Homo sapiens: one gene and its partners. The protein of the gene in region 3 purifies or fractionates together with the protein of the main gene of each other region. This does not show direct contact. Each region holds a gene or a part of one and is shown on either strand. Other genes may lie near its edges.

The links.
Region 1: the proteins of INVS (region 3) and CEP164 purify together in Homo sapiens (affinity purification with western blotting, with the first as the bait; one study listed by BioGRID). This does not show direct contact.
Region 2: the proteins of INVS (region 3) and PINX1 purify together in Homo sapiens (co-immunoprecipitation; one large-scale study listed by IntAct). This does not show direct contact.

What each region holds. Positions count from the first base shown.
Region 1 is NC_000011.10:117,386,854-117,390,353, reverse strand, and holds part of CEP164 (centrosomal protein of 164 kDa), read right to left. Parts: intron 3,152-3,500; coding exon 2,942-3,151; intron 1-2,941. UniProt on the Homo sapiens protein: Plays a role in microtubule organization and/or maintenance for the formation of primary cilia (PC), a microtubule-based structure that protrudes from the surface of epithelial cells. Plays a critical role in G2/M checkpoint and nuclear divisions.
Region 2 is NC_000008.11:10,833,376-10,836,875, forward strand, and holds part of PINX1 (PIN2/TERF1-interacting telomerase inhibitor 1), read right to left. Parts: intron 1,401-3,500; coding exon 1,291-1,400; intron 1-1,290. UniProt on the Homo sapiens protein: Microtubule-binding protein essential for faithful chromosome segregation. Mediates TRF1 and TERT accumulation in nucleolus and enhances TRF1 binding to telomeres. Inhibits telomerase activity. May inhibit cell proliferation and act as tumor suppressor.
Region 3 is NC_000009.12:100,300,459-100,302,675, reverse strand, and holds the end of INVS (inversin), read right to left. Parts: intron 2,109-2,217; coding exon 2,002-2,108; 3' UTR 501-2,001; downstream 1-500. Other genes in the region: TEX10 (testis-expressed protein 10), read left to right, coding at 372-485. UniProt on the Homo sapiens protein: Required for normal renal development and establishment of left-right axis. Probably acts as a molecular switch between different Wnt signaling pathways.

The DNA.
Region 1 (3,500 bases), on a different chromosome or scaffold from region 3:
ATCTTAAAGATGAGTCTAACCTTAGCCTCTAGGTCCACTGCTGCCTCCCTAATACCTCCCAGGATTACGAAGGGACCATGAACTCCCCTTTGCTTCAAGAAGCAAACTAATGGCCGGGCGTGGTGGCTCACACCCGTAATCCCAGCACTTTGGGAGGCCGAGGTAGGTGGATCACTTGAGGTCAGGAGTTCGAGACCAGCCTGGCCATAATGGCGAAACCCCGTCTCTACTAAAAATACAAAAATTAGCCGGGCATGGTGGCGCACACCTGTAATCCCAGCTACTTGGGAGGCTGAGACAGGAGAATTGCTGGAACCTGGGAGGCAGAGGTTGCAGTGAGCTGAGATCACACCACAGCACTCCAACCTGGGCAACAGAGCAAGACTCTATCTCCAAAAAAAAAAAAAAAAAAAAAGCAAACTACTGGCTTCTGGGTTTTGGTAGTACAGCACTTCTTCCAAAGGCTCCCCTCTGTCAACAGCTTCACCTCAGCATGGCACTCACTCAAGGATAGCTATAGCCACCCAACCAGATTCCACATTCTTTCACTCCGACAGACTCTGTTCTAGCCACATCAGCTGAGTCACCATCCCTCCATTCTACCACACTCTTCCTTCCTAGGTTCTCTGCCAAGAATTCCCTTTTCTATCTGGCAAACCCATATTCATTCCTCAACACTCAGCTCCCTCTCTGGGAAGTCTTTCCAACTCCCTACAAGCTCATCAATTCATCTTTCTGTTCCCATCACTTTACATGTGGACCTTTCTTATCCCATGCTACTCTGCACCATGCGTCACATGGCATCATAATTCATCTTCTGTATCTCTGTTTTCCTTGCAAGTCTGGGAGCTTCTCAAGAGAAAGAATCTTGTCTTAAAATCTGTTATATCCCAGGTACCACACATAGTAGCTGACATAAAGTAGGTGCTTAATAAATTAATTGAATTTGAACAGCATCATCCAGCCCCAAACTATAAGCAAGCCGTGATATCTATGAAAGGTTATCTTATTTACACACCAACAACAGTGGCCATTTCATCCTAAGCAGACATCCCCCTGCTTACACAAACCACATCCTTTTTGGGTAACTCCTCACACAGCCCCACACGACCAGGGGATGTGTGCTGTGCGCTCAGGGAATTCAAACCTAGGAAAAACGTGATTCGGAAGACAATTCCTTTGAAAAGCTTCTGTAGCAAATCCTAAAGCCAAAAAAAGACTTAGGATTCTTTCCTATTTCAAGATACTAACATCATTACTTTTTTCCATTAAGAGAGAAAATTTGGCCGGGCACAGTGGCTCACGCCTGTAATCCCAGCACTTTGGGAGGCCGAGGCAGGCGGATCATCAGGTCAGGAGATCGAGACCATCCTGGCTAACCCAGTGAAACCCCGTCTCTACTAAAAATAAAAAAAAAAAAATTAGCCAGGCATGGTGGCAGGCGCCTGTAGTCCCAGCTACTTGGGAGGCTGAGGCAGGAGAATGGCGTGAACCTGGGAGGCGGAGCTTGCAGTGAGCCGAGTAAGCCACTGTACTCCAGCCTGGGCGACAGAGCAAGACTCTGTCTCAAAAAAAAAAAAAAGAGAGAAAATTTGAATTAAGTAAAAATCCTTCCTTCTAGATTCCCCAGAAACCTTTTCTCTTTGTCCTATGGCTAAATTTTACACACAGCAACACAGTGTTAGAGCTGGCAGGGACTTTAGAAGTTTTAAGTCCAATCCCTTCATTTTACAGTGAAAGAAGCTAAGGGCCAGCCTGCCTGCCTTCTCATTCCAGAAATATTTGTTACAAGATCAGCTGTGGCTTCCAGAAATTTCTACCACATGGAAGTTCCCAGCAGACGGAAGGAGAGCCCATTCCTCAGAAAGGCTTGGGCATAAACAGAAACAGGTTCTGGTGATGAACTAGTTTGAAGAAAGCCAGGCCTTGAAGGCAGTGTCCACAGAGAAATCACTTAGTCAAGAATGCCTGAATATGCATTGATTTCCATTGAAAAGTAATTGCTACCATTTGTTCAGCAACTGCTATGTTCCAGGCCATGAATCAAGACACTTCTAGCATGCCAGTCTTCCCCACAACCTAAGAGGGCCTCTGGAGTCAGGGGCCTCGGGAGAGAGATGGAAAGCACAGTCAGCCAAGCTCAGGGTGGCCAGCAAGAGGGGAGGAGACTGGTGGGCTGGCAGGGACACAGCGCCAGGATTTCCTCCAAGGTGCTGCACCTTAAGGTGAGTCACATCCTGCTTGGGTGGGCCCCTGCCCCAATTCTCAGTTGGCTGGAAGAGGAGGATGCTAGGGGGTTGGAGGATGCTAGGGGGTTGGAGGTGTCTGTTCTTTGGGATGCTCCCTGGTGGAGGACCCACAAGGATGTGATATAAGGACAGACCCTATGTCAGTGCTTCCTGCGCTGGACTCATGAGAGATTGCTCCAACCTTCCCAGTACTTGTATGTTGGTTTTCTGTTTTATATTCTCTAAATTAAGCATAAATGTTTTATATATACTTTGCTAGGTATCATCTAAAAATAATAATTTTCTACCACTCTTGGATGTTCTGTACAAGAGGACAAGACTTAGCCTTTAGTTAAATTGCCAAGTAAATGAAATATGTTAACACCTTTTTGTAGTACCTTTCCCAACCTGGGACTGTGACAGATGGCTCATTAACAGCTCAATATCCATTCTCCCTTTCTTCCTTACCAACAGAACCCTGCTTTTATTCTACGGGGTAAAGAGGTCAGCTAAAGGACTACATTTCCGAGTGTTCTCTGCAACTAGGTGTAACCAATGAGATATAAGCAGAAATTGTTGGGTCAAGTTTCCCAACTTTAGTTGGTCTTAGTAGAACCATGGGCATCCCAGTGGTCCCCAGGCTAAGAGGGTGTCCCTGGCTCCTCACATCCCTGAAAGGCCCCAGGAAGCATGCCTAAGGGGAAGGGCAGGACCTGAGAGATTGCTCTTTCTGCTGGTGAAGCCGGAGGATCTCCTCTTCCTCCTCTTGGCACAGCTTCTCCCGCAGTTGCTGCATCTTCTCTTGCTTGGATTCCAGCAGGTGCCTCTGGTCTTGCTCGAGTACTTGGGCCACTGCCTCTTCCATGGCCTTTAGTGCAGCCTCTGAGAGCTGCTCTGGGGGAGCCACAGGCTCTGTGGATCGCCTACCATGGGTGGGGAATGGCATATCATCACAGGGTTAATGTCCACCCACCTCTGCATCCAGGTTAGAATGGATACGGAACATCACAGATGGAATCCTAATGGAGGGCCCACAATCAGGAGTCAAAGAGGTCACCCAAGGGCAGGCCAAGAGATACAGTCAATGCTTGTTCCATAGGACAAGCCCCATTGTGGCTGTTTAAGGCCCCAAGAGCCTAGGGAGAAGGGTAGCCCATAGCAGGCTCTCAGCAGACTTACGAGGTTATGGCCCAAGATCAAAATCTGAAGCTGCGGCTCAAGAGCTGGCAGCAGCAGGGAGAGAGTGAAGCTCTGTCCCTAATGGATTCCTTC
Region 2 (3,500 bases), on a different chromosome or scaffold from region 3:
TAAGGATGACATGATCTAATTTCCATATTTTAAAAGATCATTCTGGCTGCTGTACAGCAAATGGGCCAGAGGAGAAAAAGGAGGGAGGAAGGGAGGCAGCTGAGAGTCTGACCAGTCAGTGAGCTCAAGTGATGACAGTGGCTGAAGCAGGGCTCTGCCCTGCATGGAGAAGAGACGACTGGGGTGCGGGAGGCTGGAGAAGAGACGACTGGGGTGCGGGAGGCTGGAGAAGAATGACAACTGGGGTGCGGGAGGCTGGAGAAGAATGACGACTGGGGTGCGGGAGGCTGGAGAAGAATGACGACTGGGGTGCGGGAGGCTGGAGAAGAATGACGACTGGGGTGCGGGAGGCTGGAGAAGAATGACGACTGGGGCTGCGGGAGGCTGGAGAAAAACGACGACTGGGCTGCGGGAGGCAAGAGGGCGGAGGAATCAAGCATGACTGTCAGGTTTCTGGCTTGTGTAAGTGGCAGACGGTGCCATGTATGAAAAATGGGGAAAACCTGGGAAAAATATATTTGGGGGAATCAAGAGTTTTATAATAGAAATGATACCCTTGAAATGCTTACTCAAGTGGAAATATCAAGTAGGCTATTGAATTTACAAATCTAGAGCTCAGAGGACAGAACTGGACTCAATATAGAAAAATGACAGTTCCCAGACTTTAGCTAATTCAAAGTGTGGCAAGGGAATGAATGAGATCACTGCAGCAAAGTGCAAAAAAGGGGCCTGAGGTTGAGCCTCAAGGAGCCCTAATAATCAAAAGTCTATAGAAAGAAGAGACAGCAACAAATTTAGGAGTGGCAAGTGAGGTGAAAAGAAGAGCAGAAGAGACAATAGCACTGTGGAGGCCAAGACAGAAGTATTTCAAGGAGAGAGTAGTCAATTACATCCAGCACTGCTGAGGAGTTAAGTAATGTGAGAACAAAACAAGCGGCCCACTGATTTGGCACTTAGAGATCGCTAAAGACCTCAACAAGAACCATTTAAGTGTAGAGGTATCAGCAGAGGCTCTACTGGAGTCAAGAATAAATGGAAAGGGAAAAAGCGTGTAGCCTAGTTGCAATGTCTATGAAAGATGCTAAGCATGGCAGCTTAAATGATAGAAAGTTGACACTTATGTCCAATCCTAATTTATCATCATAAGGTCACAACAATTTTTGATTTGGGATCAAAATCACTTACTGATCCAAAGCATAAGTTTCTTCCAGTCTCCTAAGAAGGAAGTTTTCCCCTAATTTCTAATCTCTTTTCATAGCTCAGATTTTTTTCCGCTTTTCTCCAAAATACCTTTCCTTTAGACCACCCCATCTTCTCTAGCATCCGCTGGCCAAACTTGGAATCGTCATTACTCCAGGCAGTGTTCTGAGGATCCACAGCCCACTTCTGCTTCCGCCGACCTGTAAATGAAAAAGCATTATCATCAGCAATGGAGATGATACCCGGAAAATACCACACAAACATACACATGCACAACTTTGTGTATTTTATGTATGTATGTAAAATATGACATACATTACAATACAGAAATTAATTCAACACTCAACAGAATGTTAGACTGGATCATTTATCCTGATTTCCCTAATAAATGTATATTCTAGACATATAAGTTGACCTCTTAAGATTAAAACTGAAATGTTCCCTCATAATGTGGCAAAGCAAATGCTCAATATACTAGAGCTGGGCCTTCCATACTCCGCCATCAGCACAACTGAAAGCACCTGTGGACACCAGCATCCTCATCACCATCAGCAGTAGTAGCAGCAGCATTACAGCTTCCATTGCCATGCGTTACTACATACAAAAGAACATGCAATACCAAGGATGCGCTTAAAATAGTAAATGCCAATTATTCAACCTGAGACCTGCTCCAAACGCTGTACATAATATTCAGTTTTCACAGTACCCCAACGAGTGTGGATAGTACCATTGTCACTGGCAGATATGAAAATCTGAGGCTTAGAGAAAGAAATTTGCCGAACATCCCCAAGCAAAAACCAGATCCTTTAAACCAACCTTGGTCCTACTAACTTCAAAGCTTATATTCTTAATTCACAACATACAATAGTCATTATGCTCTTGGGGAGAGTCAACTGTACCCTCCACACATGTGACCTACAGATAATAACAATCCCATCCCTCTCATTGAGATGCCCTGAAGCCCTCTGACCCCTCTTTGAACTTCTAGAATAACTTATCTGTTTCTTAACATCCACTGTATTAGGGCTATTTATATCCGCCTTTCCGGTTTCCCATTAGACCATCATCTCCTTAGGGCTCATATTCATGTCTTTTTTCTGAGGCTTCATTGCAAGAAGTAAAAAAATCACTGTGCCCACAGCAGGCACTCAATAAATATGTGAATGGAATAAACGATAAAAATGAAGAATGGAAAGAGGAAGAAAGGAGGAAAGAAGAGGGAGAGGAAAAAAGGAAGGAAGGAGTATAACTGAATTAAGGGAACTGCTTTGAATCTCATCAAAGCAACTTTTTTTAATGCATATAAATTACTGATCATTATGAACTCCAGTTTATCACTGTCGTTTTAAGGAAAATTATGGCAAAAATAAAGAACTCCAAAGGTTCAAAGCACAAGAATGTCAAACTGAAAAGTAGACTGTGGCGAAATGAGAAATTTGGAGGTGTCATTATCATTTATCTGCCACATCAATATAAGCACATTGTCTCACCATCAACACAACCCCTCCTACCTTGCCCATCTCATCACATAATTAAAAAATAACATGACCCCCTGTCAAAGGGGCTCACTGTGGCACACATAAAATCAATAGAGGCCCATAACTATGCACACTCCAGCAAAAATAGGAAATCCTTTACAAATACACAGGCAGAAAAAAAGGCCCTTAACAAAGCAAAACAAGTTGGGCTCGAATTTGTAGTGTTTTGCAGAAAAAAAAAGGTGACCCAAAAATGTTCCATCTAAATTACCACTTTACTTATCTTGGCAAATACTCAGCATAACACTGCGTCTGCTAATGAACAACACACCAGAGAGAAGCCTGTTAGCCAGTATTCTATATGCAAGCTGGCATCAGTGTGTCAGAGTTCATGTGTCTATGCAGTGCTTGCCAGGGGTCTTTGACTAGGGCTTGTACGAAGGAGACAGTTTTGAGAATAAGCTCACGCTCTGCAGTTAAGAACTGCACACGCTTCACATTACCTACTTATATAAAACAAACTATAATGCCTACACAAGAGATTAGCTATTCAAGGTCAATTCCTCTCCCCTGGGAAAATGGCAGTTAGCTTCAATCAATGGGATCACACCAGTGTTTCCAAACAAGGATGTTGGGGGGGCGGGGGGTGGCAGTTTCCCATTGAAAATGAGTAACACTGGGTTAAACTAAATTTCATATGGAAGAATCTCCCGGAAACTTTACTATGCAAATGTGCAGATCCTCTTAGAGGAGGCCAGAGCAGGCCTGCCATGCTTCCCAGACTTCACTTGACCAGAACCCTGCTTCCCTGGAACATTTCCC
Region 3 (2,217 bases):
TGTTGGTTGGCCCTGTAGAGTTATTCTCAGTTGGCACTGGGGTAAAGATCATGAGACACTAGAATGGCAAGAGGGAGAGGCAAGGGTGAAGGGATGGTTGGTGGTGAAATTTCATTAGTCTCTAGCATGTGCAGGAGGGAACAGACTTAACAAGAAACCATTAGCATTTGAGGATATAACTAGGAATTTTCACTGCCTGTGGTAATGCCCAATTAATAGTTCCCTGTTTCCTGGAAGACTTCCTATGGTAATTTACAGATGGGGATACAGTTGCCAAAGCTCTGGGAAATTGTGTTTGGGTGTGAAAAATACTGTCAGGTAGCATAGTGATTTGGGTGCAGTTCTCAGATTACTCTTGTTTTTCTCTCCAGACATTGAAGAGTGGAAGTGTTCAGGAACAGTGGCTCACAGACTTACATTACTGCTTCAACGTGTATATCACTGGGCATCCCCAAGGGCCCAGTGCACTGGCTACAGTGTATTGAAGAGGCCATAGTACCTCCTGTTTGAAGTTGTTTATTCACATCTATCTTATTTGAAGAAAAAGACTGATGTAATAGATCTTTGTCATTAAAGCTGAACTTTTAAAGAAGTTTACGAACCTTCTTTCTTTGCACTGATATATGAAAATAATGTTTGGGCGTTCCTATTGATGTGTAGGCTGGCTTCCCGGACTAGCACACGATACATGGTCATAGGCGGTTGTGCATTGTGCATTTCATAGGAGCTAAATATTTACAAAATAGAGAGTGATACTGTGGTACCTTCTGTTATATACCAAGAAACTGGCTAAATCTTTGTAATTCCATCCAGGCAGACCTCCTTCTTTGTGTTTTTGTGATCACAAAAACGATGAATGTAATAATTAGTAAACTAAAAACCAAGGTAATTAAGTGAACACTTCATTGCCTATCTGTCTATCTCTTACCGTTAGCACAGAAGTGGCACTGATCTGAAGAAAATGAAAGCAACCCCCAAAATACCTGTGAGTAAAATATATCACTGTTTATGCCTACTGTCAATATTCTCACAGCAGCTTTCCCCTTAAACAATGTGAAAGAGCCCATCATCACTGGATTTTATTTAAACCAGGTGTTCTTAGAATGCTAGGATGTGTGCCGTTTCATTCTTCCCTGCCAACAGAAATGGCATTTTAAGAAGATTGCTCACTTCTGCAAGTTGGTCAGAAAATACAAGTAGAACGTTGACGCCTGAGTTAGCACCTTGCTGCATGAACAGTCTGGTCTGTAAACCCTACCTGACAGAATCCTTGATACTGTAATACGGCTGTTGGTATTCAGCACTGAGAAAGCCATTCAGTGAAGACGTGGCGGCAACTTGTGGCCTTGAGAGGCTAACGTAGGAACTGTAAAATGTAAGGAATCACCAGAATGTATCTATGGTCTTTTGGACAATTTCTAAATGAAAACAGTGGGCAATGATTCTGATCTAAAATTTAAACCTGATTAATTTTGAAGTAATAGTGGGACGTGATATGTGTGTGTGTGTGTGTGTGTGTGTGTGTGTGTGTGTGTGATAAGTTTGTTGCATTAGATGCCAGGAAAGTAGTGAGAGGAAGGCTGCTATGGGACAGGCTTCCTATCTCATTTAGGTTCATCTCTTGAAACAAGAAGCCAGTACCAGCTAGCTGGCAGAAATCCCAACCCAGCAGCCGTAGTTTTCCTTAGATTTTGCTGTTAATTATGAATTCTCATTTCCAACTGTACAGACTGAGGTGAAAGCAGACACTCAGGCACTTTGCACAGACATAGTCTATGCAGGTCCTTTCAGTGCAGGCTGTGTTGATTGACAAAACAATGCTGTGTAAGAGCAGAAAGGAAACATTCTGACATTTTCTTTCAGTTAACACATTTTTAGGTGAATCAGCCTTCAGGTACGGATATTAAAGTTTTCCCAAGGTGTAAAAGATTATCAGCAGAAAATCTGAACTCTGCACTAGCTATGCCAGCTCCCCCGAACACAGTCTTCCTCCATAGGCAGTCAAGGTTTTGTTTTGTTTTTTGGCTGAGTAGCTGATTGCAGGTTATAAGAAAAGTTCTTTGATCTTCCACTGTTCTCAAGGAGATGTATACACTGTAGGTTGCTCACTGTTAAAAACAAATACCAGATAGATATTAAGGTTATTAATTTTAAGGCTGAAGGGAATAGTTCATTGGTGTTGAGGAAGAAGGATTTCGGTTTAGGCTATCCCTGGGA